Linked DNA regions of Homo sapiens. The protein of the gene in region 1 interacts with the protein of each later gene in a biochemical or structural test. Each region holds a gene or a part of one and is shown in the gene's direction. Other genes may lie near its edges.

Region 1 (7,043 bases):
ACTCATCAGAATTTAGCTCTGATGAAATTAATTATGTAAAACCAAGAAAACACTTTCCCTAATGGAGAATTTTACCTTTCTTTCGGGGTTTTAATACCTAAGAAGAGGATAATTTGGCAAGAAAATCAAGGAAAGCTTGATACTTTTATTCTTGTCATCTCATTAGCTAAACAGAGCCTGTAGAGATAAGGTCTGCTTTATCTAGACTCCCAGCTAAATAAGAATACATACCTTGAAAATTGCTGATAGTATTTTTATACTAGACAAGCTAGTACTAAGATAAGCTAATGTCTATTGCTGAACAGGCATTACCAATCACTTTGCATTAGTTTTTTTTTTTTTTTTTTTGTCCACCAGGACAAATGTAGCACAAGAAAGTTGCTTTTAATTCCTCTTTTCCCGTTTGTGCCAGTGTAAGCATTGTAACCAAATCTTCTCTCCTATGTCACTCCTAATACAAAATAATAACTTATATTGCAGTCACGTCTATACACATCAGAGAAAAAATTTATCTTTTGTTTTACAGTACATTACATTTAGTTATGAATATCAACAAAGAGACCGATAAAGCCTTACCAATTGAGTCGTTTCTTTCACTAGCTTGCTTTCTTTCTCAGATCATTACGATTAAAACAACATTTTTCAAACTTTTGCTCATATTTTCACAAAATTTAAATTTCAACTCCTTTCTAGTTACGAATATAGTGACATTTTCACTGTGTAAATTTCCAGGTTGGATGATTGATGCTGACAGTAGACCTAAATTTAAGGAACTGGCTGCTGAGTTTTCAAGGATGGCTCGAGACCCTCAAAGATACCTAGTTATTCAGGTGAGTACATTTGACTTATGCCTTTAAGACTAGGCCAATGGCAAACTCACTGCAAAATGAGTAGTATCAGGACTTTGGAACTGTGGAAAGGACCACAAACATGTTGATTAATTAAGCAGAATTATCATGTGACATGACTTATGGAAAAGAGCTTTTTATTTCACGTCAGATCCACCTTTTAGCACCTTCCCTTAGTATTCAAGTGGCTCTGCTACTGAACAGATAATTATGATTATACATATACATAAAGAGGTCTTAATCCTCAGACACTTATTTTAGCACCTTGATTTTATTAACATTATGTGTAAGTCATGTTCATTAGTATAATTTTCTTTTTTCGGAACAAAAGGAAGACAGATTTTTGTTTTAATCTTGCCCATGCTTGAAGACAGTGAATCAAAAGTTTCAGTATATTATTTAATTTCCCCAAAAATATTTTAAAATATGTTTTGTTTTATTTGGAGAGATATGCAGTATCTAAGCAATAACTCAATTCAAATGAATTGATGCACATTTTAATCAACCAACCAAAGAAATATTTTATATTTAACACTAGAAAAATAGATAGACTTGGATAATTAAAAAATAATAATATATTTCTCTAGGATTAATTTCACCTAAACTCTAAACAAATGGGCCTTGGACTAGAGTGTATTATGTTTCCTCAGTAAAGCAAGGTAGCCTTTATTTTCATATCGACAGTCTGACATAAAGATAAAAGCTAGGTTTTAGAAGATACTTATTTCCATTTATTTTTTCCCCAAAATTAGTTTTCATGAACTGAAATTGTTTCCAAAAATTATGTAACTTTAAAAATATAGGAAAAATACTTAAGAAATAGACGAGGTGAGGAAGAGCATAACAAAGGTTTTGGTGTCTTTCTCATACTCCTTTACTCTATTTGCCACTTGCACTGTGAGTTTTGAATGCCCCTACTTTGATAATGCAGTCAGTATGCTATAGAATAAAGTATAGACCCTATGGTCCTGATAATCCTACAGCATCAAACCAACCAAATAAACGTTGATAAATTGATCACCTTTTATTGTTTATTCTTAAAGTTGCAACCCATACACTATCTGGGCAATGAACAATTATTTTCAGACCTGAAATTGATTTTACCTCCCTAAAAACATCTTTTGATTTTGCTTTATTATTCTCTAATGGCATTTATCATATTCTCCTTGTATAAAGTTTGTTTACCTGGCCCTATCATTTCTAAGCATGTTATAGGTTTCTTAATGGCCGGTGGTTGTGCTAAAGACTTGTTTTTTTAAAATGTGTGTATGAATTTTTCAACCATTTGTTATGATATTACATAAATTTATTGCAGAGACCACATATTTAAGATAAGAAAGAATCATATTTGTGTCTGATGGGCAATCTTTCTTTTAGGGTGATGATCGTATGAAGCTTCCCAGTCCAAATGACAGCAAGTTCTTTCAGAATCTCTTGGATGAAGAGGATTTGGAAGATATGATGGATGCTGAGGAGTACTTGGTCCCTCAGGCTTTCAACATCCCACCTCCCATCTATACTTCCAGAGCAAGAATTGACTCGAATAGGGTAAGAAATAATTATATACACATATCATATTCTTTCTGAGATATAAAATCATGTAATAGTTCATAAGCACTAACATTTCAAAATAATTATATAGCTCAAATCAATGTGATGCCTAGATTAAAAATATACCATACCCACAAAAGATGTGCCAATCTTGCTATATGTAGTTAATTTTGGAAGACAAGCATGGACAATACAACATGTACTCTGAAATACCTTCAAGATTTCAGAAGCAAAACATTTTCCTCATCTTAATTTATTTAAAACAAATCTTAACTTTAAAAAACAATTCCAACTAATAAAACCATTATGTGTATATAAATAAATGAAAATTCCTACCAAGTAGGCTTTCTACTTTTCTTTCTTAAAAAGATATTATGATATATTAGTCAAGAAGTAATACAAGTATAAATCTCTTTCACTTATTTAAGAAAAATTAAATATTTTCTGTCAAGTTGAAGTAGAAACACAGAAAACCGTGCAGTCCTTTGAACCTAATCACATCGAAAAGGCTGCTGAGAAGTAGATTTTTGTTTTTAAGAAGTAGATTTAAGTTTTGAAGGAAGTTTCTGAAAACACTTTACATTTTAAATGTTAAACCTACTCTATATGAATTCCATTCTTTCTTTGAAAGCTGTCAAATCCATGCATTTATTTTTATAAATTCATTCCTCATACATTCAACATATATTGAGTACCACTGTATGTGAAGCATTAGTATACATTTAAGACTCAAAGAATTTTGATACAACTTCTGCTTTCAAGAAGTGAAAACCTTAATCAAAGAATCATACAGATAGAGGGACTGCATAGTAAGTGCTGTAATCCAGTATTCACTGACCAGTACGGAGCATGAAGAAGTAGTAAATTTGTGTCTGTAATCAGTTTCTTCCATTGATAAGATATAAACATGATGCTTAATTTTTTCTAGAAGATAATTCTTTTCTCTTAATCTAAGAACATTATCATAGCTAGTAGAACCGACAGCATCCGATTTCTCTTGACCATAGCCATAAGAATATTTTCAACTTGCTGCTCATTATCTAACAAACATAATTTTCTTTATTTCATATTGATTGTAATAAGTAATATTCCCCTGGTGTTTACTATTCAACACATATATGTTAACCTCCTTAATCCTTAAACAAACTTCATGAGGTTCTATTATTATCATCCCCTTCTTTCAAAGGAAGAAACTTGCCACAGAGAAGTCAGGTGATATGACTGGTGTCACACAGCTAGTCAGTGGAAGAGAGGAATAATGTAATCTAGATATCTGCCTACTACACTGTAGGTTTGCTTCAAAGTTACTGAAGCATGTTATTTCCATGATGTGATTAGAGTCTGGGACTTGTCTTGTTTGGGAAATTTCCCAGGTGGTTTTCTTATAAAATGCATCTCAAATCTGCTCTACACCTTTTACTCATCTACCTCCATTTAGAAGATCTGATATGGAAAGAGACAAAGATGGAGACCTCAATTATTTTTTCTTTTCTGTTAAAAAATATTATAGTACAAACTGAAAACTTTATCACATGCCCAATGGGGAATAGATAACTAAAAGTTTTAAAAATTAGATCAATGGATAGGTAATGAATAATCAGTCTTTTGCTTGTGAGAGGGGAAGAAAGCGGTTAAGGTGTATAAAGGAGGCTCTCTGTACACTTTGCAAAATGATCAAATTATATACCCTTGTATTTATAATTTTAAGTGACAAATTCATTACTTCTGGTTACAACAGTGAAATTTAAAAAAAAATAGTTTTTCTTTCTTAGCTTGCAATGCTATAAATCTTTTTCTTTTTATAAGAATTCTTACATTTCAGCTTTTTGTTCATTTTAATTTATAATTCTCAGTGCAAGAAATTCTTAATAAAGGTTTGAGCTAGCTAGATGGAATTATTGAGACAAAGTCTAAATCACCCGTGGACTTATTTGACCTTTAGCCATCATTTCTTATTCCACATTATAAAACAATGTTACCTGTAGATTTCTTTTTACTTTTTCAGTCCTTGGAAAAGAAATGGTGATTAAATATCATTGTATCATTTTATGTTCAGGCATTTAAAAAGCTTTATTTGTCATCTATATTGTCCTAATAGTTTTCAGTCTGGCTTTACGTAACTTTTACGGAAATTTCTAACATGTACAAATGCCATGTTCCTCCTTTCTTTCCTACATGGCTGAATTAGAAAACAAATTACTTCCATTTTAAGTTTGGCTAAATTAGAAAACAAATTACTACCATTTTAAGTTTGGTGGCTAAATAACGTGCTAAGGGAACATCTTAAAAGTGAATTTTGATCAAATATTTCTTAAGCATATGTGATAGACTTTGAAACCAAAAAAAAAAAAAATAATGCATTTTGAAAATATAGGCTCCACTGCGCACTAATTAAGAAACTTTAGGTAATGTTCTGAATATCTCTATGACTTTGTTTCCTCATTTTCTAAATGCTATATTGCCTATCTTATATGAGTGTTAGGCAATTAACTTTAAAAAATTGCAGAGTATTTATAATGCCAGGTAAACAAATTTTATTACTCTACTTTTAGAATCATCAATTTCACTTTTCATTTTTACCATTTCCATTTTTACCTTTTTCCTTGTCAATATCATATATCATAAATAATCACACTTTCTTATAAGGTGCTCTACCCACTATCTATGAAAAGCTTGTTGATGCAATTACTGCTTGGCCAGCAAATTATTTCTGCTGATGTGTTCTAATATCAAATAAAGACAGAAGTAATTTTTTATAGTGCTTTTGATTTTTTCAATTCCACAAATATTTTGATAAATTACAACTTTAAAGCAATGAATCAATTCAAAATACAATGTTTATATTTGTCCAGAAAGTTGATGAATACAAATTTAAGTCATGCTAGAAAACACTTACCTAATTTACAGCTGCTGTTACTATTGTTAGATATACTTTTAATATTACCTTAAAATTTTTTCTTTTTTGAGACAGGATCTCACTCTGTCACCCAGGCTGGAGTGCAGTAGCACGATCTTGGCTCAGTGCAACCTCCACATGCCAAGCTCAGGAGATCCTCCCATCTCTGCCTCCAGAGTAGCACCACAGGTGCATGCCACCCTGCCCAGCTAATTTTTTTTTATATTTTTTTGTAGAGACAGGGTTTCCTTATGTTGCCAAGGCTACTCTTGAACTCCAGAGCTCAAGCAATCCACCCACCGTGGCCTCCCAAAGTGCTGAGATTACAAGTGTGAGCCACCATGCCTGGCCTCAAATCTTTTTAAGCAATAATACACCAAAAGCTATTTTACTCTAGCGTGATGTAAAAATAGGAGAAAATGAGAAGCTATTTAACTTCTGCAAACCGTGCTCTATATCTGTAAAATGGGGATTTAAAAATTTTCTCACGGAATATTATGAAGATTACCTTTTTAGTGTATGCATGCACGTTACCTATTAATGGACCTGGAATAGATGCTCCAATAGTGTGGAAATAAATGAATATTAACCAAACGAAAAAAGCAAAGAGTATTTATTCAGAGACTGCTATAGCAAGAAAGTCAGCTCCATCAGTTACATTTTGGCAGAGACTTAAAGGCCCGCAGAGGAGTGGGAAAGCTGTGTAGGGTTAAAAAAAAAAAAAAAAAGGGAAGGCTTCATCTATGCCCTCATTAGAGACTGTTGGCCTGGGGAAGCTATAGGCAGGATAACTAGAAGCCATTGGTTAGAGGTGCATGTTTGACTTTTTTCTGTTGGTCTGAAGTTGGAAGCAAGGACAAAAATTAGGAAAGCTGCCAGTTATTAATCAATTCTGGTCATTTGGAGCTGATTGTTATACAAGTAATTGTGTAGCTTCCTGGGTTGTTACTAGAGATAGCAATCTGACTTCCTGCAAATCTGATTTACAAAAGGCTGGTTTGCTGGGCTGTTTATTGTAGATAAGGAGGTTTGCTTCCCAATTTGTTTCTATTTTTACATATGGTCAGGCCATTGTCCCTTTGTATATTCAGTCTATTGGATTTAGTTTCCATTGCGGCCTTCTTTTCTCTAGATATTTAAACACATGCTGCCTAATATTTTCGATTACATGTTCAGCATAATTTAAAAATTCTCCATAGGTTTTTTTTCTTTCTTTTTTGTTACAATGGCTAAGTTTGGTCTTTTGAGTTACCTAGAATTATATTTTTTTGATATAATAAATTGTATATTAAATGAAATAGCAATGAATAAAAATAGTGAATAAACTGATGTGGCTGAAGATATTTTAGCTTTAATGATATTAGAAAATTTAATTTAATGTAAAAGCTTCCATGTATTTTTATAGAGGAAGACATAGTTTCAATTGCAAGCCCATCCAGTCATTTGTAAGCAATAGTTTTAAGATTAAATGCTCCTCTGTCAAAACATATCAGCTAACTCTTAATTATCTCAGCCAGTGGAAGACAGAGAAATTGTAGCTACTCCACATTAGTGAAGTGAGTAACCCGCAATGGATTTATCATCACAATGTAACTTCTTTTTCCCTTCTTTTCTATCTGCTAAGAAGTAACTTTATTAAATAGATTTATTTGCATTTTCCTCTTCCTCTTACACGCTTTCTCCCAGAATAGATATATAAATAAACTGAAAAATAAAATGTAAGCAGAAGTGAAGAAGAATGAAGAAAA
Region 2 (7,043 bases), on another chromosome or scaffold:
TGGTTGTTCTCCAGTGCTTTCAAACAGTTGTTTTTCTGTTTTGTATTACTATTTTAAGTTTTATCCAACTAGGGTGGTTAGTCTGATACAGGCAACATTTAGGATTAGAAGTTTCCAATTCCTATTTTCCATGATTACTTTTAAGACATTCTCAAAGCATGAAAATATAGTCTTTATCTTTAATAAGTGTTAAGCTTGTCCTCTGTGTATTTTTGCTATGGCCTCCTAACATTAGCATGATATAAAATCTTTAAAGCAGGAAACAGAAGTAACATTTATTGAGTTCCAAAAACATGCAGGCCCTTAATAAAGATTTTACCAATATTTTCAAGTCTAGTTGGAAAGATAGCACATTTCCAAAATGATATAAATTATTACCTAATATTGTACTTACATATCAAATGATTTGAAATAATACTAAAGGAAGACAAGAACATTTGTTGTACACAACTGTTCACTTAAACTCTAGAACAAGCATATGTATGAAGAGATGATGTTTCCATTTTAACAGGTGAAGAAAAATGATCAGTTTAGAAAAATTTGAAAATACAGAATCACCTACAATCTCCTTAGAGATAATTACTTAGAACATTTTTGGTCTAAGAACATTTCTAGTCTTTTTCCAGTGCATATAAAGCTTTTCAAATTAGCTGTGTGCAGTTCTAGCAGTTCAGCTTCAATCTGTTTGTAACTTTATTTCTAATGTATTTTACAATTAATTGAAATTTCTTTAGTTTACACTTTGAAATACTGATAACATTTTAATAGTGCTGACATAAAGTTTTCTAAAATATATATAGCTGACTTTTTTTTAGTAATGATCTGGTACAATGGAGTATTATTTCTTTAAGAATTATAATTTTATGTTAATTATTTATTGTGAGTGTTTTGGAAGCTGGTATAAATATTTTGCTACTTTTTATTAAGCTTCCTAATAATTTTTGTTTTTATTTTAAAGGCCAAACTGTTTTCAGATAGTAGTTCAGCACTTTAGTGAAGAACATTACATCTTTTACTTTGCAGGAGAAACTCCAGAACAAGCAGAGGTAAGATTACTGTTTCTCAAACTACAGTATACTTTTATGTTAGCCCATGTTTTCTTATTAACTGGAATAGAAAATGATCGCATTCAAGATAAAGTGACAGAACGCCTGAAATCTAATCATCTCTTATTTTAAGGAATGAGATTTCATATGTAAAAAGTTTTCTGAAAGAAATGCAAAAACAAACACAGTGAAGGGTTATTAGGAATGAAAACTCCATTTTAAATTGACCTTTAAATACTCTATGATGTTGAGGCCAACTGAGAATGCTCATTTAAAATCCTCTCTGCATAAAGGTTATAGGTCATCTCAGTATAATCCAAAGGTAAGCCAGTTAACCAGTTAGTTTTGCTAACAAGCATTATTCTTCACTGGTTGAACTCCATGTCTGAAAATAAAAGTCAGTCAACACAAGGAAAGATATTTTAGGAATCTATTCTCTAAGCCAAGTCGAGATATAATGTCTACTTTAGATTAGCTATTAATCCATGTGCAGTGTCCTTCTTATAGCGTCTATTAAGTAATTGTGTGAAGAAATAATATTTTTTAAAAAACACTCTTTAAAAAATATTTTGCAACAAAGGGAGAACCCACCTCTATAACAAAAGTAAAAAATTAGCTAGGTGTTCTGGCTTATGCCTGTAGTCCCAGCCACTGGGTAGAATGAGGCAGGAAGATTGCATTAGCACAGGAGTTTGAGTTACAGTGAGTAAGATCGAGACACTGTAAGCCAGCCTAGGCAACAAACTGAGACACTGTCTCTTAAAAAATTTTTTTGCTTTCTTTGAACCCTAATATTTCTGGAGTATATGGTTGTATTTTATACAAATACAGCTAAATTTCTGCTTATATTCTAACGAAGGAACTTAAAGGTGGTTAAGAAGTGAAAGTGGCTTTGTTGGAAATATAATTTGCCAACCCTAGATATGAGGAAGATGCTCTTAAAACTAGATCCTAGCGTGAGACTCACAGAATAAACCTGAATGAGCTTACAACTGAACGTCATATTTCACATCTTTATCAAATATCTCATTTAATGCTCATTTCACATGTAATGCACATAAAATTTTACGGCTATGTATCCCTAATTTTTAGATGAGAAAGGTAGTGCTCAAAACATTTTGGTAACTTACATGATTTTTTTAAATGTTAGAAATTGAGTTAGAAATTTAAACTTCAGTATCCTATTTTCTAAGTATTTTACCATGGTCCCTCTTTCTGAATAAAATGTCACATACCATAATGACATTTCAGCATGTTTTGCAAGCCTAACATAGAACATTTTTTAATGTATTTATACATAATATTTCTGTATTTCCATAAATGGTATTTCCAGTTTTTGTTGATTTATTGGGCTGTGGGGGTCTCTGGTTATTCTCTTCTATTTCAAAAAGCTATGGTAACTGATTTGGTTTTAATTTGCTGTAATATAAAGACAGTCTCTAGATATTAATAAAGTTCAGCTTCATTGAAATAGCCAACAAACTAAAGACATAATTGAATAAAGCAATAGTACACAGCTTTCCAGAAATATGTAAAAACCAAAGTGAATATTTAGATTTGTTTTTAATAAACCTTAGTTCTCTCCTTTTCCCCAAAGCACTAGATAAACATTTTAAAAATATGGCTGCAATTTGATTTGAATATTAGGCTAAAATGATTTTTAAAATCTAATGTTATATTTGAGAAGCTTAAAAATAACCCAAATCCCCTTATACATTTCTACCTGTATCATGGTCTAAAGTATAGATTAATATGCTTGTCATGGGATCGGTCATCACATTATCAGTTGGTTTTACAATCAGCACTCTCCCCCTCTCACAAAGTGTATCAAGTTAAATTCCACCTAAGCTTGCCTCAAGTATAACAGCTTAATTATACAGTTAATTTCCCCAAGGTAGTATCTGTTTGGGAGAAATAGTTTCTTTAATGTAAATTTGATTTTTTGGCTAATTAATGGCCACTCGATGTGTTTCATACATAAATTCAAACAAAGATTTATACAGAATTACAATTGTTTTGGTTGTTTTATTATTGTTATTGTTATGTTATTGTTATTTTATTATTGGTTATTGTTATGAAGTACAGTATAGTCTGAGAATAGAAATGGCAGTCTAGAGAAGGAAAAAATTGTTGAATTTGAAAAAAAAAACCTAACTGATGATTTGGAAGCCAAATAAACTAGTGTATATTTCTTTGAAGTGCTGTTTTTCTTTGCAGGATTGGATGAAAGGTCTGCAGGCATTTTGCAATTTACGGAAAAGTAGTCCAGGGACATCCAATAAACGCCTTCGTCAGGTGAAGCTTAATTTTCTTGGATTTTTAATTGTCACATTTTGCTCTAACACTTTGCTCTTTTTATTTTATTTTTATCTGAACTGTTTTGGACATCATATGGGGTTAAGCCATGCTGCCACTTGCTTCAGTAGCAGGAAAACGTTACTTCTTTATGAAAGAGAATGTTCTTTCTTAGTCCATGCCAACTGTTAAAAACATAAGAAAGATTATTCTTCCACTTTAAATAACAACACTAAACCAACACAGCAGAAACGGTTCTGTTGGGCACTTAATTTTCCTTCAAAAACTTATTTTGGCCTCTTTCAAAAAAGTAGAACATTGAAAAGATCATCAGATTTATAGCACTAATCCCAATAAACTTTTTTGGGATTTTCATTTTGAAGAACAGCTTTTAAAACCTACTGCTTAACTCTTAGGAAATATTTAATCTTATTTGAAACTGTAACATGCCCTATACTTTGAGATTTGTGGAGAGTTAAGCTAGGCTTTCTCTTTTTTTTGCCTTTACAAGGGTAACTTTATAACCTCCATTTCTTGGCTTTTTTCTTTTTAGTAATCCCTGTATAATTGGAAGAAGTTAGGCAAATTTTGACATTCTCAAGGTTTAAAGAAAGTTTAGTACAATATTTATTTACTAACCAAAGTGTCTCCTGTTCTCTTTGTGCGAATATCTGATAAGCTGAGTGATTAACATACTGTTCTACTGGGAGTGGATAATGGTTGATATTTAGGTGACTAAATAGTCCCTGTAACCCAAAGTCTGGCTCTTCCCCAGGGAAATTTAAGTATACACACAATCGCCATGTCTTCATAACATTGTAACATTTTGTAAGCTATCAAAAATCAGATTGGATTTTTGCTAATAAGAGCAAGTTGTATTTTGTGTGAAACTTGAGCCATTAAAATGACATTTGCAGGTTTAATATAATCATAGCTAACATCTCTCAAGCACTTTTTATGTATCAGTGGGCAGTGTGATTTAGTGATTTACATATACTGTCAGCCCTTTCTATTCATGGGTTCTGCATCAGTGGACTCTACCAACCATGGGTCGAAAAAATACAATAAAAAGATACAGTATAACAACTATGTACATAGCATTCACATTGTATTAGGTATTACAAGTAATCTAGAGATGATTTACGGCATACAGGGGGGCATGCATAGATTTTATGCAGATACTATGTCATTTTCTATACGGGACTTGAGCATCTTGGGCTTCGTTAGCTGCCAGGACAGAGAGGTGGAGGGTCTTGGAATCAGTCCCCCACAGATACTGAGGGATAACTAGTTTGTAATACTTATTACAACCTGTAGTGTAGACTTTATACTTACATATTAGAAAGATGAGGCTTAGAGGGACGGATTTGTGCAAGGCCACACAAGTAGTATATGGCAAGAGAGAAAGAGAACCTGATACTAGAAGGTGGATGGTCTAAGTTTTGGCATCCAAACTAACAAATAACTTAGTTTCTTTAGGTTTGTATCCTTTCCTGTAAAATAAGAAGGTAAAGTCAGTGTTTTAAAAATTTTTAGCTGTGGAACTCTTTTATAGAAATAGAATCTTCCAGATAAGTATTATATAACATACGGGATTTTAATTTGAGTAGTGACAGTTGTTTACTTATATTAATAAAGAATTTTCTTCTTAACTTCATTTTCTCTTTATCATTGTTTTATGGTAGAAAAGGTGTATTTCATTATTTCTCCAGGAATATACTGGGAGAAATAACTTGTAAAATAAAATTGCATTGTTTTTATCTTTTAGGTGGGAAGAATTATTTTAAATGTCTGAATGTTTTAAGTATGTCATATACAAATATATAACCAAAGCTCACATTTTCTGAAAAAAAAGGGGAAAATAAGTCATTATTTTTGGCTTTGTATCTTAGAGTAATTGCTTTTGAAATGTAGTGCAATTCTAGAAATCTGGGGTAATATATATATATATATTTTTTTTTTTTTAGGTCAGCAGCCTTGTTTTACATATTGAAGAAGCCCATAAACTCCCAGTAAAACATTTTACTAATCCATATTGTAACATCTACCTGAATAGTGTCCAAGTAGCAAAAACTCATGCAAGGGAAGGGCAAAACCCAGTATGGTCAGAAGAGTTTGTCTTTGAGTAAGTCTTATTTTATCATTACATTAATCATTTTCTTTTACCATATTGCATTTCTTTCTGTTTTTTTGGTCTCTGTATCTAAACCATCAGAACAAGGTACCATATCCAGGTGTTCTAATAGCATATATATATATATATATTTTTTTTTTTTTTTTCTGTTGTTTGTTCACCTTTATTTGTGAAGTGCTATGCCCTTGGTTTTTCCACTTAGTTATTAACATGAATTAGCAAGTCAAAAAACATTTACTAACCCACAAATACAAAACATTTACTAGGGTTTCCAGTACTTATTTGAATGAATTATTAGTTTAGGAGGTTAAAGATGGTAGGAAAAGTGTGTAATCTGCGTGTCTTCTGTATACCAAATAATAAAATATGTTGTGAATCTGGTTTTAGGTCTAGCACACTGTTTTTTTTTTTAAAGCAGAAATAGGGGGTTTATTTGATACTAGAACTAAAGAAATAAGGTAGTTTGATGCCAAAACATTTTGTTAATTCTTTTTCTCCTTGCTCCTTTAGTGATCTTCCTCCTGACATCAATAGATTTGAAATAACTCTTAGTAATAAAACAAAGAAAAGCAAAGATCCTGATATCTGTAAGTTGATACAGAAACTTTCTAAAATAGAAAAAGCATGTTTTATATACTTTCAAAATTCACAATGAAAGTCTTAAAATAGAAATTAAAAAAACAGAAATGCAAGTAGTATAATTTGAGATAGTTTCTTTCTGTACTTCTTAAAGTATTGATTATCAAGAAAGAATATACCTAAGATAGAAAAAGACCAATATGGTTCAACTGTACACACTGTTAAGCAATTAAGATTAAAATATTTAGCCACCCTCCTTTCTCCAATGAATAGGAAGAATAAGGAAATGATTACAGTGGTCTTTTTGTAGGGCTTGCCCTCATCCCTTCTTTCTACTTTTTAGGTTTTTCCTGCTTTTTTTTTTCTTTTGAGATGGAGTCTTGCTCTTGTTGCTCAGGCTGCAGTGCAGTGGTGTGATCTCGGCTCACTGCAACCTCCGCCTCCCAGGTTCAAGCAATTCTCCTGCCTCAGCCTCCTGAGTATCTGGGACTACAGGCGCCCGCCACCATACCTGGCTAAGTTTTGTATTTTTAGTAGAGACGGGGTTTCAGCATGTTGGCCAGGCTGGTTTCAAACTCCTGACCTCAGGTGATCTGCCGGCCTCGGCCTCCCAAAATGCTGGGATTACATTACCATATAAGTAAAAAAGTATTCTATTTAAAAATTTCCCTTAAACTTGAATGTCATTTATTCTATTTAAAAATTTCCCTTAAACTTGAATATGTCACTTATTCACTTCTGGTAGTCAAAGGCTCCCAGTTCCTGTCCTCAGCAGCACAGCTCCTTCCATCCTGCTGCTAAAACAGTTGACAGTGAGATTTACCAGTTCACATCAGGGTGAATTAGGTTAATACCTTCTTAAAACTCAGGCTTAGGGAAGGAAGTGATATGTATTAACAGATCAAAGCCTGAATATTTCTCTATAAAATGTTTATTCTGTAGTTTTTTGTAGTAATTTTAGTTTTCCATTACTTTTACGATAAAATCCA
Region 3 (3,274 bases), on another chromosome or scaffold:
AAAGGCAGTCCCGGGAGAAAAGACGGATGGCAGGATCCAAGGGGCTAGCTGGATTTGTTTGTTTTCTTGTCTGTGTGATTTTCATACAGGTTATTTTTACGATCTGTTTCCAAATCCCTTTCATGTCTTTCCACTTCTCTGGGTCCCGGGGTGCATTTGTTACTCATCGGGCCCAGGGACATTGCAGAGTGGCCTAGAGCACTCTCACCCCAAGCGGCCTTTTCCAAATGCCCAAGGATGCCTTAGCATGTGACTCCTGAAGGGAAGGCAAAGGCAGAGGAATTTGGCTGCTTCTACGGCCATGAGACTGATCCCTGGCCACTGAAAAGCTTTCCTGACAATAAAAATGTTTTGAGGCTTTAAAAAGAAAATCAAGTTTGACCAGTGCAGTTTCTAAGCATGTAGCCAGTTAAGGAAAGAAAGAAAGAAAAAAAAAAAAGGCCTGGATACTGCTTTTGCTGTCTCTGTTATGAGATGGAAGACTTACATGTTTGTGATAAAAGGGGACCATGAGAATGAATTGGCTTGGCTTACTTTCCCCCTGAAATCCTCTCTCCTGCAGACTGTCTTGAAGACCTGGTGACTGGTAAATAAAGCCCTGCATGGAGGCTGCACAGCAGGGGCAAGAGGCCCATCCCCCAGCATCTCACTGAGGACAGCTTCAGGCTGCCTTCCTCTGAACGTGGTCCACACCTTCCTCTCCTCCACAGAGAGGGTGCCGCCAGAATCCCCTGTCGCTTTCTGTGTCTGCAATGGGGGGCAGCACAGGGATCAAAGCCATCTAAAGAGTTTCCAAAGAAAGTATTAATTCAGAACAAGCCAAAGACCCTGAGCCTCACCACAAACAGGCCTTTTGGAGTGTGAATTTGAGTTGAAGATACAAGATCGGAGAATGATTTTCTGGTCTTAACTAATCCTCATCTTCATGTTTGATCTTTAAGAAGTCATCACCCATTGATTTCAGTTTTGCTGTACCTCTTGAAAGTTAAAGAGACATCTCAGCACTTTAGGAGGCCGAGGCGGGTGGATCACTTGAGGTAAGGAGTTTGAGACTAGCCTGGCCAATATGGTAAAACCCCATCTCTACTAAAAATACAAAAATTAGCCGGGCATGGTGGCATGTGTCTGTAGTCCCAGCTACTCGGGAGGCTGAGGCAGGAGAATCGCTTGAACCCAGGAAACGGAGGTCGCAGTGAGCCAAGATCATGCCACTGCACTCCAGCTTGGGCATCACAGCGAGACTCTGTCAAAACAAACAAACAAAAAAACAACTTAAAGAGGTAATTTAGCCATCATTCTTATGCCAGCAGATATAAATAAACTTGGACCCATCTGGTCTTCAGCTAAACCTGAGACATTTTAAAGTGCATGGACAGCCATGGACAGCAGGCCCTCCTCTAACAGGGGATGCAAGGCATGGAGAAAGACAATCAGTACCCAAGCTCAGCCACAGAAGACAGGAGTCACTCATATAACTTGTGTTTAGAAGTTTTTGGTAGCCACGCACACTTTCTGAAATCACACTATCTGGTGGTTTAATCATATTTTTAAAGACAGAATCCCTGAGTGCTGAGCAGATTCTCAAAACACATTTAGAATCCCTGAAATTAGAAAGATCAATGACAAAATATCTGTCAGCCAGGCCACAAACAGGTGTAAAATTATGAAAGGAGTGGTTGGATGTGCCAAGTTTGGTAAAGTGGTGACTGCATCTGAGAAAGAGGCTGTGAGGCTGAACTCTTGGTGGCTTCCTTCTGTAACTTCCAGAGGGAGTCTTCAACACAGGCCCCGTGCTCGTAGGAATACGGTAGCACCTATGTAGGAAGTGCGTGGAGTTTTCTGTCTTCTTTCTGTGTGATTTTTGGCCTTTTTATCAGCACTTCTCCCCTCCCAGGAGCCTGGGGATGCCAAACATCCAGAATGTGATGGGACAAGATGGGGGCAGGGGCCTCACCTCCCTGCAGAGGTCCGGCCAGGTCTCCTTGTCCCTGGACAATCTCCTGAGCCTCTCTGCTTGGTGGAGCAGGCACCTGTGTGCAGAATTCCCACTGTGGCCAGCACGAGGAAGTCTTTTCTAGTGAAAATGTGTCTTGTGGTCAGGAATAATTATCCTTTCCCCTGTAGCCACCAAGGAGGGCAAATAGAGAAAGGTAACCTAATTGAAGGATTGGTCATGTGAAAAGGGCTACATTTGGGAAGCTGGGAAAGGCCTCCAGGCTTCTAGAGCAGCTAGCTTGGGCTGGATTCTCATACCCAGGCTGCCCCTTGGATTGTTCTACCCAAGCTTTTCCCTGGGGTCTGGGCTCACTCCATAAGGTAAGGTGCCTTTTACCTTATGGTCCTTCTTTAGCAGGTAACAAAGGAGCATCAGGGGCAGGCTGCCCTGGTGGCATCACACTGGCTAGTGAGGCCGTGAATATCTTGTCCCCCAGCAGGGCCGACAGTTTCTATCACAGAAAACAGTGTGTTCAGTGGTGAAAATCGTTGCATGCATGTTTTCATCTGAGCGTGTCCTTCTCCCATACTCCCTATCAGCCAGCCCTGCCTGTAGCTGCTGTATGGTGATTGCACTTGGACATCAGTCCAATGACTGCAAGTCGGCCTGGATTTTCACTTGCAGAGGCTACAGCTGCATTGTCAGGTCTCCCAGCCCTGCAGAGAGCTCCCTCCACTGGTTAGCAGTGTGTTGTGTTTTCCATTCATTTCAGAAGAGCTACATTGTGTCACTGGACATTTTTAAAAACTGTGATTTTTAATAAAAATTTAAAATTTGCTTTGTGATGATTTTCATGGAAGTTATTAGGATGTGGTAAGTCACACTGTCAAATAGTGTCAAGCAGCATTGTCAAAGGGGTAGCTAAATGTTTTCTAAAACATTAAGTCCCTGCCATGTCCCAAAAAAGTGAATGTGTTGGCCGGGTGCAGTGGCTCATGCCTGTAATCCCAGCAGTTTGGGAGCCCAAGGCAGGAGGATCTCTTGAGCCCAGAGTTTGAGACCAGCCTGGACAACATAGTAAGACTTTAGCTCTGCAGAAATCAAAACATTAGCCGGGTGTGGTGGTATGCACCTGTAGTCCCAGCTACTTGGGAGGCTGGGGCAGGAAGATTGCTTGAGCCTGGGAGGTCGAGGCTGAAATGAGCTGTGATGGCACCACTGCACTCCCAGCTGGGTGACAGAGCAAGATCCTATCTCAAAAAAAAAAGTGGATGTGCACAGGTCAAAGTTGACTGTGAGATTCCACCACACAGAACGGCGGGGAGGCCCATCAGGGAG
Region 4 (6,044 bases), on another chromosome or scaffold:
TTGTTGCTCAGGCTGGTCTCGACCTCTTGAGCTCAAGCAATACTCCTGCTTTGACCTCCCAAAGTGCTGGAATTACAGGCCATCATGCCAGACCTAAAACATTTTTCATCTTGTAAAATTGAAATGGTACCCATTAAAGCAGGGGTCCCCAACTCCTGGTCCCCAGCCTGTTAGGAACTGGGCTGCACAGCAGGAGGTAAGTGGAGGGTGAATGAGCATTACCTGCTGAGCTCCACCACTTGTCAGATCAGCAGAGGCATTAGATTCTCATAGGAGCAATAACTATTGTGAACTGTGCATGTGAGGGATCTAGATTGTGCATTCCTTACGAGAATCTAACCTGAGGTGGAACAGTTTCATCCTGAAACCATCCCCCTCTCCACTCCTGTCCATGGAAAAATTGTCTTCCACAAAACCATTGCCTGGTGCCAAAAAGGCTGGAGACTGCTGCTTTAAACAATGACTCCCCATGACTCCCTTTCCCCAGGTCCTGGCAAACATCATTCTACTACTGTTTCTATGATTCTTTAGTACTTCGTAAGTGTAGAATCGTACCTTATTTGTCCTTTCCTGGCTGGCTTATTTCACTTAGAATAATATCTTTAATTTTCATCCATGTTGTAGCATGTGTCAGCATTTCCTCCTTTTTAATGCTGAATAATATTTGATAGTCTGGATATACTACATTTTGTTTATACATTCATCTGTCCATGGACACTTAGATTATTTCCACCTTTTGGCTGTTTATGCTGCTATAAACATAGGTATACTGTGGTAGAATATAGATATATCTGTCCATGGCCCTGCTTTCAGTTGTTTTGGGTATATACCCAGAGGTGGAATTCCTTGATCATGTAGTAATTCTATTTTTAATTTTTTGGGGGAATCTCGCCATACTGTTTTCCATAGTGACTACACTGCGTTATATTCCTACCTGTAGTGCAGAGGGGCTCCAATTTCTCCACATCCTCACATCCTTTTCAACTCTTGTTTTCTTCTGTTTTTTTTTTTTTTTTTTTTTTTTTTGGTTGTTGTTGTTGTTGTTTTGGTGTTTTAAATAATAGCCATCCCAACAGGTGTGAAGTGGTATCTCATTGTGGTTTTTATTTGCATGGTAAAGGATGTTGAGCATTTTTTTAATGTGCTTATTGGTCATTTGTATGTCTTTGGAGAAATCTCTATCCTTTGTTCATTTTTAAATATTGTTGAGTTTTAAGTTTTTTATATATTTTGGATACCAGTCCTTTATCAGATATATGATTTACAAATATTTTTTCCCATTTTTGGGTTATTTCACTTTCTTGATGGTATCCTTTGAAGCACAGTAGTATATTTTTGTGCTTCTATAGTAGTGTATAAAGTAGTATACTACACTACTCATTTGATTCTTTGCATATTTCCTTTTCTCAAACTAACAATTCTTGCTTTTAGTTTTAATCGCCTGGACCTGCCACCATACAAGAGCTATGAGCAACTGAAGGAAAAGCTGTTGTTTGCCATAGAAGAAACAGAAGGATTTGGACAAGAGTAACTTCTGAGAACTTGCACCATGAATGGGCAAGAACTTATTTGCAATGTTTGTCCTTCTCTGCCTGTTGCACATCTTGTAAAATTGGACAATGGCTCTTTAGAGAGTTATCTGAGTGTAAGTAAATTAATGTTCTCATTTAGATTTATCTCCCAGTGATTTCTACTCAGCGTTTCCAGAAATCAGGTCTGCAAATGACTAGTCAGAACCTTGCTTAACATGAGATTTTAACACAACAATGAAATTTGCCTTGTCTTATTCCACTAGTTTATTCCTTTAACAACAATATTTTATGTGTGTCAAAAGTCTCACTTGGGAGTAGTGTTTTTTTCTTTTAGACATTCTGCAGACATGCAGGGAAGTCCTTTGGTAACTGCAATATACAAGATTTTCCTATTAAGCCTCTTGGTAAGAGGCATTTGTTAAAAGTGCAAGCTTACTCCTGCTTCTGGGGATGTGAGCAAAATTCGGGCTTGTGTTCTCCCTCTCATTTTAGTCTGACTTGACTATTGTTTTTCCTTTCTGGCGCATGAATCCATACATCATTCCTGGAAGTGAGGCAAGACTCTTGCATCTCTACAAAGTAGTTTTGTCAATTTGAATTCAGGGAAAAGTTGGTCACAGCCTGCAAATGACTTCATTTGGAAGTCTGATTGTTTCAGTTGCCTGACAAATACTACACTTTACAAACAATGTTAACACTGTGATTCCTTCATTGTTTTAAGAAGTTAACCTAGGGCCGGGCATGGTGGCTCATACCTGTAATCCTAGCACTCTGGGAGGCCGAGGCAGGAGGATCCCTTTAGCCCAGGAGTTAAAGACCAGCCTGGGCAACATAGGGAGACCCTGTCTTTTTTTTGGGCAGCGTGGTGGGGGATAAATAAATAAAAGGAAAAAAAACTTAGCCTAGAATTAGAATTAATTTAATTGAATTCATCTAAAGATGTCTCTGGTGATTTTTATATGTTCCGCTATATAATTGATGCTTTATAGTTTTATCATAATCCAACAACTTCAGTTATATTTAATTATTGTTAAGGAGTTTAAGACTAGAAAGACTAGAGTGCTTTCTAGTCCAAATAGAGGTCAGTGAAACAGCTTTTGACATCAGATTTTCATTTGAGAGGGAGAGCTGTGGTACTGGCTAAAAAGAAAGGAAGATAACATCCAGTAACCACAGGAATATATTCTCTGTGAATTAAAAGTCTTCAAAGTTATCATTTCTCTGACATATGTTGGAGTAGTCATTTCCATTCTTTACATTGTCATGAACTGGATTGATAACCCTCATCTGCAATATTTTCACCCCTAAAATTTTTAACAGGGTTTCCTTTTTTTCTCACGACTATTTAAGTTTAGATTGCTCCATTATTAACTGATTAATGCACTTTGAAGTTCTCTGGAATTAATTATTTTAACTTGGCCTAGCTTCGACTGTCAAGGTGGCTGTTATAAATTTGACTTCATTGGCAGTGGATGAAGCCTAAGCCAGCTGAGTCTCTATCATAGCTGAACCCTGAGGACAGCCTCATAGCTCATGTATCAGGGACTTTTGCCACATTTCAGAGGCATAGCATGAACAAGTAATATTAAGCCAAGAATAAGCAGCAGAACCCTGTTCCATATGGAAAAAAGAAAAACAATTTTTTGTCCCTAATGTTCTTCCTTTTACATCCTGGAACAACAATAAAAACATTTTTTTAAACTTGTCTACTGTAAGATACTGCCATCATAAAGCAGAGACTTACATGAGTGAAAGGGTTGCCTCATCAAGCAGCTCAGTGTAAATGGGGAGGCTAGGCTCTCCCCAGCCCTATGGTTTTTTTATTTCATGTACCCCAGGAAATACTGTGTGGTTTCTAAAAGCCCTGGTTGTTAAAAGTAGGGACTCTGCCTTTTTGTTGGTAGGGAGAAAAAACGCTATTGCTTTGTCTTACAGAGCGAATGTCTGCCAACTACCCGTTCATTATATAAGTCTGAACTTGGTAATATATGGCTAATGAAGATTAAGCCCTCTATAAAGACTTCCTGTTGAGGTGAATTCTCATACTGAAATGTAGTTACCTACAATATTTACTAGAGATTTATGAAATTAAATTAAGAGATAATGTAAGAAAATACATTTTTTTGGTTCTATATAATGCTTCATGATTCATTTAGGGACCTAGAAATATTGTGTGAAAATATATAAATATCACCCAAAAGGCTTTCTGCCCTATATTTTTAAAATACAGAATAGTTATATTTGAAGTAGCCCTGGCCCTAGTTCTATAGGGCTTGGCTATTTAATATTTTTATGGAAGAAGTGTTTAGTTCTGGAAAAGGTAAATGCTTGTATATATTTTTGCAGCCTGGGATCTCCCTACTCCATTTTTTCCTTTAATTTAAGTGGCCACATGTATATGTCTTCCCTGCTGTGTTAGGAAAATGGGGGCTGGATATCCCAAGAATCAGAGGTTATATAAAAATACTGCAAATAGACCGCAGACATAAATATCTACCAAATGCTATCTTAAATTTTGGTCCAAACTGAACATATGGAAATAGATTTATTGTAAGTATTTACTTAGAGCTTTTTCTTAAATCTGAACTAACTTGCTTTTAGAAGTCTTTTTCTTTGTAAGCATTGTAAATGCTAATAAATCCTGTTAATTTTTTTTTTTTTTTTTTTTTTTTTTTACTGCATGTTACATTGAAATAAAAACAAAGTAAAATGAGCAATTGCCTTATTGTTCTGCTCTTTTGCAGGGGGTGGGGGTTGGGGAAGACAGCATTCCACAGCCTGGTCAGGAGGGAAGGACCTCACTTGTTTCATCAAATGGAGTGGTTTAAAACTGATCAAGCAGCTCATAATAATGAATTCCTGCTCTGTCTTTTATTATCTTATGTCAGAGTGCAGCAAAATCTCATTTCATAAGACTTACAATAACTCTATTTAAAATTCAGGTATTGTACTCGGGAGGCTGAGGTGGGAGGATCCCAGGAGTTCAAATCCTGCCTGGGCAACATAGCAAGACCCTGTCTCTTAAAAAAACAAAAAGACATATTCAGGTACTGATTTTTCATCAAGAGATTGACATACCAATGATCAGAAATTTTAGTGAAACTTGACTCAACTATACACAAAGTTCTCATCCTAAATGAACTATTTCAGTCAAGCCCACTCTACCACTTTTTACTTATCTGGTTAATAATCCGAAATGTTACCGGGGTTGACTCACGGAATTAAATTTTTCCTCTATTTTTATATCCTTTCCTGTTGTGGATGTAACTTACCTTTCTAAACTCCTTTAGAGTTAACGACTTCTATTTAGTATTGTTGGTATCTCCAGCCCCCCTCCTTTTTTTGTTTTTCTTTTAGTTATTTACTTTGTTTGTATAATTTGCTTTCATTAACTAAAAATGGAATTGGCAGCACTGGATTGTATATTACTGTATTAAGAGTACCTTTGTTTTCTTGATCTGTTACTTTTAATACTCAGGTAATGCTACAAATATTACAGGGAGTCAAATGCTTTTATAAAGTTCCTTCAGTGGTTGCCTCACTTGCGTTTTCCTACAAGATGTAAGACTGTTTATAATTAAACTTTTTTGGTCCTTCATTTGCATGCTTTTCTATCAGTCTTGGGTAAGGAGGGGTCTCTTTCCTCTCTCCCCGGCCCCACCTTCTGAGACTTATATGTGACCAGGTCACATAGATTTCTGCCTCTCTGCTTTTTTAAGTGGCAAGTTACAGCCCATCTGGATTGTGGTATTGTTCCCAGACCAAATCAAGGGTTGGACTGCTTATTCTCGCAGCCCAATAATGAGGTGCAGATGAACTGAGAAAGGAGGGAGTTTATTTCTGTAACCAGGTATGGGGAGAAAGCCTGGAAATGATCCCAAGACCAACTCAAAACTACAAAGTTTTCCAGAGCTTATTTACATTATAAGCTATATGTCTACATGTGAGTGTACATTCATCTAAAGACATAAGTGATTCACTTTTTTAAATCTATAAATAAGATCTGAGCCCTGAAGACCTTCCTCTGGAGCCTCAGTAAATTTACTTAATCTAAATGGGTCCAGGTGCTGGGGTGATTACCCTTATCTTGTTTCCTGCTAAATCATGGAGGTTTGGGGACTTCCTTCAGACCCCCAGTAAACTTGTTTGTGGAGGCCTTCAGACCCCCTCAATAAGTTCCTTCAGACCCCCAATAAAACTTGTTTAATCCTAAATGGGTTCCTTTGTTATCTTGTCATGCTTCAAGGCCCAGAAAAGGCCTGGGCAAAACCCTTGGTGGCCTTTTGTTACATTCTAGCCTTTGCATAAGGGCCCTCACTCTTTCAGCTTTTAATATTTAACTTAACCACTCAGTGCTGAAACAGTTGTTATGGAGGCCTGCGTTATTGAGATCTGGCCTGCCACGGTACGGGTAGAAAAAAACTAGAAAGAGCTGTTGCAGATGAGACTGGATTTGGTGCCCATGTTGAAGATGAAGATATCTGCAGGGGCCATCAACCAACATAAAGGCCT

Evidence for each region.
Region 2: the proteins of ERBB4 (region 1) and RASA1 form a complex in vitro, tested with the Homo sapiens proteins (2 studies listed by BioGRID and IntAct, with this or other methods).
Region 3: the proteins of ERBB4 (region 1) and SYK form a complex in vitro, tested with the Homo sapiens proteins (2 studies listed by BioGRID and IntAct, with this or other methods).
Region 4: the proteins of ERBB4 (region 1) and ITCH form a complex in vitro, tested with the Homo sapiens proteins (2 studies listed by BioGRID, with this or other methods).

The regions. Positions count from the first base shown.
Region 1 is NC_000002.12:211,415,794-211,422,836, reverse strand, and holds part of ERBB4 (receptor tyrosine-protein kinase erbB-4 isoform JM-a/CYT-1 precursor), read left to right. Parts: intron 1-732; coding exon 733-830; intron 831-2,225; coding exon 2,226-2,396; intron 2,397-7,043. UniProt on the Homo sapiens protein: Tyrosine-protein kinase that plays an essential role as cell surface receptor for neuregulins and EGF family members and regulates development of the heart, the central nervous system and the mammary gland, gene transcription, cell proliferation, differentiation, migration and apoptosis.
Region 2 is NC_000005.10:87,368,855-87,375,897, forward strand, and holds part of RASA1 (ras GTPase-activating protein 1), read left to right. Parts: intron 1-958; coding exon 959-1,046; intron 1,047-3,263; coding exon 3,264-3,341; intron 3,342-5,308; coding exon 5,309-5,466; intron 5,467-5,985; coding exon 5,986-6,062; intron 6,063-7,043. UniProt on the Homo sapiens protein: Inhibitory regulator of the Ras-cyclic AMP pathway. Stimulates the GTPase of normal but not oncogenic Ras p21; this stimulation may be further increased in the presence of NCK1.
Region 3 is NC_000009.12:90,895,777-90,899,050, forward strand, and holds the end of SYK (tyrosine-protein kinase SYK), read left to right. Parts: 3' UTR 1-2,773; downstream 2,774-3,274. UniProt on the Homo sapiens protein: Non-receptor tyrosine kinase which mediates signal transduction downstream of a variety of transmembrane receptors including classical immunoreceptors like the B-cell receptor (BCR).
Region 4 is NC_000020.11:34,506,264-34,512,307, forward strand, and holds the end of ITCH (E3 ubiquitin-protein ligase Itchy homolog), read left to right. Parts: intron 1-1,431; coding exon 1,432-1,531; 3' UTR 1,532-5,510; downstream 5,511-6,044. UniProt on the Homo sapiens protein: Acts as an Acts as an E3 ubiquitin-protein ligase which accepts ubiquitin from an E2 ubiquitin-conjugating enzyme in the form of a thioester and then directly transfers the ubiquitin to targeted substrates.